2 separate regions of the Homo sapiens genome follow, and region 2 is reported to be linked to region 1. The links are microRNA targets in miRTarBase. Many come from high-throughput screens and were not tested one by one. Region 1 holds a microRNA gene; the other region holds the end of a gene's coding sequence.
Evidence for each region. Region 1 holds the annotated microRNA hsa-miR-4258 (CCCCGCCACCGCCUUGG, at 828-844, shown strand). A microRNA usually pairs through its seed, bases 2 to 8, with sites in the 3' UTR of a target mRNA and lowers its output. Matches are read on the target gene's strand: a 7mer-m8 pairs with bases 2 to 8, a 7mer-A1 pairs with bases 2 to 7 and ends in A, and an 8mer does both.

Region 1 (3,121 bases):
AGGAACTGAGGCGATAGAATTGGCGCATGCGTACGAGGTGCGAACGGGCAATGGTGTGATATTGTGGAAGGCGTAAGGCGCATGCGCGGAGGTGGGAGGCGCTCGTAAAACAAAGTGGTTGCGAATTTGGAGTCGCCTCTCAGTAGAGAGGAGAGAGGGGTGGGCGTGGTTAGGGTACTGACCACCCTCACCCATGAGGCTTTCTGGATCATTCTCTGAACTTTATCGGGCAAACTTAACTTGCCTTGTAGAGACTGTTTCACAGTAATCTTGTCGAATCCAGTGGGAGAACGTAGCAAAAGCGGAGCTGGAAGTTTCCTGGCGTCCCTAACAGGAGAGTAGCGCTGAGAGAGTTGAATATTGCTTATTAACTCGTGAAAAAGACAAGGGGCGTGGTTGTCTGGCTTGTGTAAGGAAGGGGATCGCTTGGGACTGCAATGGAATAAAACTGGCTAGGAGCATTGAGAAAATACTTAATATGGGTCTAATAGATGCCCTTTAAATATCAAAGGGAACAGTTACGGAATACTTAACAGGTTTCAGGTGTTCTGCTAAAGTGCAAGGATAACACATGGTCTCTGCTGTTCACAAATTTAAAAATCTGTGGGTGGTACCGACAGACACCAGAAAGGTGACACACGCTATGCAAGGAGCCATTACAGGGTGTGATGGGAGCACACAAGACTTGCTAAGGAGAGGGAACTGGCGACCCGAAGGCTGCGGCTTCCTAGCTGTGAGCGGGGGTTGAGGTGGGGCTAGAAAGTCAGTCCCCTACTTTTGCTAACTCCAGGACGCTCCCCCATCCCACGCTTCGAGAACGCCCCCCGCCCCGCCACCGCCTTGGAGGCTGACCTCTTACTTTCGGTCGGTCTTCTTCCCTGGGCTTGGTTTGGGGGCGGGGGAGTGTCCTAAGGGCCAATTCAGCGTGATGTCTCTTTCACCACCATTGAAAACGAAACCAGTAGTAAACTACGCGTGTTTTCATTTATATGTCGGAGATAAAAACACAGGGACAGAAAGAGGGGAACAACAGACATTGGGGCCTGCTTGAGGGAGGAGGGTGGGAGGAGGTAGAGGTTCAGGAAAAAAAAAAACTGTCGGGTACTATGCTTAGTACCTGGGTGATGAAATAACCTGTACACCGAACCCCCGAGTCAGGATTTTACCTATATAACAAACCTGCACATGTACCCTTGAACATGAAACTTAAAATACTGAGAGGAAAAACGGAAGAGGGAATGTTGGGGAAAGCTTCCTAGAGGGCAGAGCCTGAGATGAGACTCTAAGAAAAAGGTATGTGGGAGGAAGCACCTCTTGACTGAAATTGTTTAGAAGACACTGGATAGCCATCTGCCAAGGATGGTGATGATGGAATCCTGGCACTGGATGTGGCATTCGGGCTTGATAAATTTTAAGTGCATAATCTAGATTGGGAATAAGGGAAGACACAGGATTCCACAAATGTTGGCATTATGCTAATCTGTATTAATTGTAATAATTAAGACCACTTCCTGGTTTGTATCTTGTCTCCTCAGTTGGAGAACATAAAATGAAAACTTGCTTTTCTTGTGTCTCTTCACCCAGCCTAGTTCAGGGCTTTGGGTCTTCCAGAGAACTCGATGTGCATTGACAAATACATAATCATCTTTATGCCAAGACGGCTCCAGACCCTCCTTTAATTAACTTTCTTTTCCTCAGCTGTTTTCCTCTACATCTGAACTAAACTAACTTAAAACTGTATGTGCTTATAAGAGATTTGTGGAGCTGGGAAGGAATCACCATTTCATCCCCTGGAAGATGAAACTCTTGGCAGTGGCACTTTGGTTTAAGAGGGGTTTTTTGGTGTATGTATTGAAGCCAAATTTCGTGCCAGGGTGGTGTTAGAATGTGAGCTATTTTCATTATATTTGGACTAGAATTTTTTCTTTTAGGAGAATGGTGGGGAATCACTGTTACTAGCACAGAGGGAGAACTTAGTACATTTTCATTGAGCATGACGAAGACTATGTGGATTAGTTTGATTCACATCAGGGTAATAATTTTTTTGCTATGAAGGGAGACTTATCCTTGGTTAGAAAAGCACGGAATTTACCCAGAAAGTCTCAAGGTACATCCCTCCAGAGTTAGGAAAATAAGATTCAGGATAGATTTAATTTTTTTTTTAAGAGACAAGGTCTTGCTTTGTTGCCCAGACTGGAGTGCAGTGGCTATTCACAGGCACAACCATTGTGCATTGCAGCCCTTTCTTTTTTCTTATTTTTTTTCTCTTTTTTTGAGACGGAATCTCACTCTATCGCCCAGATCTCAGCTCACTGCAACCTCCGCCTCCTGGATTCAAGGGATTCTCTCCTGCCTCAACCTCCCAAATAGCTGGGATTACAGGTGCATGCCACCACACCCGGCTAATTTTTGTATTTTTAGTAGAGACGGGGTTTCACGTTGTTGGTCAGGCTGGTCTCCAACTCCTGACCTCAAGTGATCCACCCACCTCAGCCTCCCAAAGTGCTGGGATTACAGGCATGAGCCACCGCCCCTGGCCTATTTCTTCTGTATTTTAATCAGATTTCAAACTTCATACTGTATCTTTTTCAAACTCCTGGGTTCAAATGACCCTCCTGCCTCAGCCTCCCAAGTAGCTGGGACTGTAGGTTTGTGCCACCATGCCTGGCTTAGATTTTAAAGGACAAGATAGTTCATTTCATCCTTTGTAATAACTTGTCCACACAGTACTTCATAAAAGGCCTTTCCTCGCCACAAAATAACTTCTCTTCCTTCCTTCTAATTATTAACACTGTGTGCTCCGTGGGGCTCCCATTATGTTGTAGATAATCAACTAGAAGACTATAAGGTCCATGAAGGCGGAGAAAATGTGCCTTGAACTTAAGTGCTCATTCACTGGAATTATTCACTAATTTGTATTTTTAATATACTCTCGGAATTTATATAACATAGCCTGTATTTCTAGCTGCTGCTACCCCACAATAAAATTATATAAACTCTGACATCAAAAACCAGTTTTTCTTTCCTTTCTTGGCCTTGTAAACAGGCATTTGTCTAAGAGACTGTATCTGGTACTAACATAAATTCCCCACTTCCCCGTTTCTGTTACAGACATGTCATG
Region 2 (3,000 bases), not on the chromosome of region 1:
CTGATTTGCCTGTAGTTCTGTATACCTCTTTGGGAGCATCAATAGCTACTGGTATTTTATTTCCTGTGCTATATAAATTAGCCACTTCACCTCTTGATCGCCAGCGAAAAGAAGACAGAAAGAGTGAGGACCAGAAAGCTCTGCTCTCTAGCTCCGGGCTAAATGAATATGAGGAAGAGAATGAAGAGGAGGATGCAGAAAAATGGAATGAAATGGATTTTGAAATGATTGAAACGAATGATACAATGAGGCATTCTATAATAGAGACATCTAGAAGTAGTCTGACGGAGCCCACAGCTGAAGTCTATAATCAATACCCATCAAATGCACTGGTGTTTGAGTCTTCTCCTTTTAATACTGGCAGTGCCCATGTGAAGCACTTGCCAGAAACCAGGACAAAAGGGACTAACGTTTAGAGAAGATGGATTACTCACTGACATCTTTGAATAACTGCCACTTCTAAGGACGCCATTCAGAGCAGAGCATTAGCAGAATTTCACCATGCTTTGGGGATTAAAATTTTTAGGTCCATATTATAGCAAATGCTAAAAATTTTTGAAATGTTCTGTAATTCCCAGAGTCTTCCATAAATAACCAAATGGTCTCATACACGTACAATAGGATCTTGTTATAACGCTATCATTTGACATGTGACTGATTAGGAAATATTTTATGGTCTCCACCCCTCAGAGCACCCAAAGAAGGCATTGTTTTTGAGAAGGGGGGTATTCTCAGAATGAGACCATGTAGGAGTTGAATTGATTGGTTGAACAAATTATCAGGTATCAATATTTTTCCAGGAAAGTTGAGGAGAATAGTTTCATAAAAGAGAAATGGGCCGGGTGCAGTGGCTAAAGCCTGTAATCCCAGCACTTTGGGAGGCCGAGACGGGCAGATCACGAGGTCAGGAGATCGAGACCATCCTGGCTAACACAGTGAAACCCTGTCTCTACTAAAAATACAAAAAATTAGCCAGGCGTGGTGGCAGGCACCTGTAGTCCCAGCTACTTGGGAGGCTGAGGCAGGAGAATGGCGTGAACCCGGGAGGTGGAGCTTGCAGTGAGCCGAGATCATGCCACACCGTACTCCAGCCTGGGCGACATCTAGACTCCGTCTCAAAAAAGAAATGGAGAGGTATTTTTATTAATTGCTTTACCTTATCTGTAGGGTTGGATCAAAGAATGTAATGACTCATTTGATTTCTAATTTCAATGAAGAGAACACAGAACAGGGCCCAAGGGGTCGGGCTTCAAGCCTTGACTTCTTCTAGCCCTGCACTCTGTCACTTAACGTAGGCCTTGTTTATCTCGCCTCCTGATCTGTGATTCTAGAAATGAAAATGAGATGATTTCCAAATTGGGAATCTGTAAGTTTTAAAGTTTGTGCAAAATGTCTGCTAGAAATTAGTACAAGTGACAGCATGTTCTTCATTTCAAATGAGAAGTGAAACCAAAATGATAAATAGCTTTAAGAATGTGCTAATGATAAATGATTACATGTCAATTTAATGTACTTAATGTTTAATACCTTATTTGAATAATTACCTGAAGAATATATTTTTTAGTACTGCATTTCATTGATTCTAAGTTGCACTTTTTACCCCCATACTGTTAACATATCTGAAATCAGAATGTGTCTTACAATCAGTGATCGTTTAACATTGTGACAAAGTTTAATGGACAGTTTTTTCCCATATGTATATATAAAATAATGTGTTTTACAATCAGTGGCTTAGATTCAGTGAAATACAGTAATTCATTCAATTATGATAGTATCTTTACAGACATTTTAAAAATAAGTTATTTTTATATGCTAATATTCTATGTTCAAGTGGAATTTGGAGACACTATGTTCTAATTTTAAGAACTGTTTCAGTGTTATTAGATTAGTAGTAGGGCTGTAGATGGGGTCTTTCGAGGTCCTTTGCCTACCTCAGTAACAGAGGCTGGGTCTGAGCCTTGCTCGAGATTAGCTCTTCACCAGGTCTGTGTGGTAATCATATCGTAGTTACCGTAGGTCACGCTGCAAGTGTAATTTACAGTGAGGCATAGTCTTTTCCAGTGATTGGAATACTTGTGTCACCGATCCAGGGTTTCTCTTTCCTGAGTCTGAAATACCTGGGAAACCAGTTAGAAGGTGACTGGGTAGCCTAGGAGTCAAGGATCAGAAAGGGTACTTCATATATATGTGGCAGAATTGGTGCAGGTGATCCTTTGAAAAATGACAAGAATTGATGAAATTTTGTTTACTTCCTCCAATTTTTTGCTGAATAACATCTCCTTTCTACCTGATTGGAGTAGGCTTGCTTTCTCTTACTTAATTTCTATAAATTTGCCATTGTTTTGTCTCAAGTAAAATACAGTGTCTTTCTTGACCACTGCCCGCCCATTCACCTTATATGCCTGCCACAGTCTTGGTTCATGTAATAACCTAACAGCTTTGGAGATGGCGGTGGAGAAGTTAATGGTAAAAACCTTCTTGCTCTTTTTATTTTTATTTATTTATTAGGGGTGGGGGATGGTGTCTCACTCTGTCACTCAGGCTGGAGTGCAATGACGTGATCTCAGCTCACTGCAACCTCTGCCTCCCTGGTTCAAGCGATTCTTCTGCCTCGGCCTCCTGAGTAGCTGGGATTACAGGCATGCGCCACCATGCCCAGCTAATTTTTGTGTTTTTAGTAGAGAGGGGGTTTCATCATGTTACCTAGGCTGATCTCAAACTCCTGATCTCAAGTGATCTGCCCACCTCAGCCTCCCAAAGTGTTGAGATTACAGGCATGAGCCACTGTGCCCAGCCCTTTTGCTCTTTTTATAGTGTAAATTTCCCTCAGTTAGAACTTGGAAATTACTTCTGCTTCACTTACTGCCTTTTCTCAGGTTGTTGGAATCTAGGCAGTAGCAGTTACTTGGCAGCTAGGAGGCTTGCTAGAATAGGAATTCCACCTTCAGCATTTACTGTTACAGGGTAGAAGATGCAGCTCAGGGAGAGAAGGATGATGAT

Region 2: miRTarBase lists SLC60A2 as a target of hsa-miR-4258. The part of its 3' UTR that is shown has no 7-base or 8-base seed match.

The regions. Positions count from the first base shown.
Region 1 is chr1:154,974,876-154,977,996 of GRCh38, forward strand. It overlaps MIR4258 (microRNA 4258), which reads left to right and starts at 818; the gene lies at 818-908. CKS1B (CDC28 protein kinase regulatory subunit 1B) reads left to right here. Exons shown (of 3, transcript NM_001826.3): 2 at 3,112-3,121. RefSeq lists enhancers at 1-51, 152-211.
Region 2 is chr6:111,266,704-111,269,703 of GRCh38, forward strand. SLC60A2 (solute carrier family 60 member 2) reads left to right here. Exons shown (of 4, transcript NM_153369.4): 4 at 1-3,000. The coding sequence ends at 416. Among named protein-coding and RNA genes, the nearest start is that of SLC60A2, 8.9 kb to the left of the region's middle.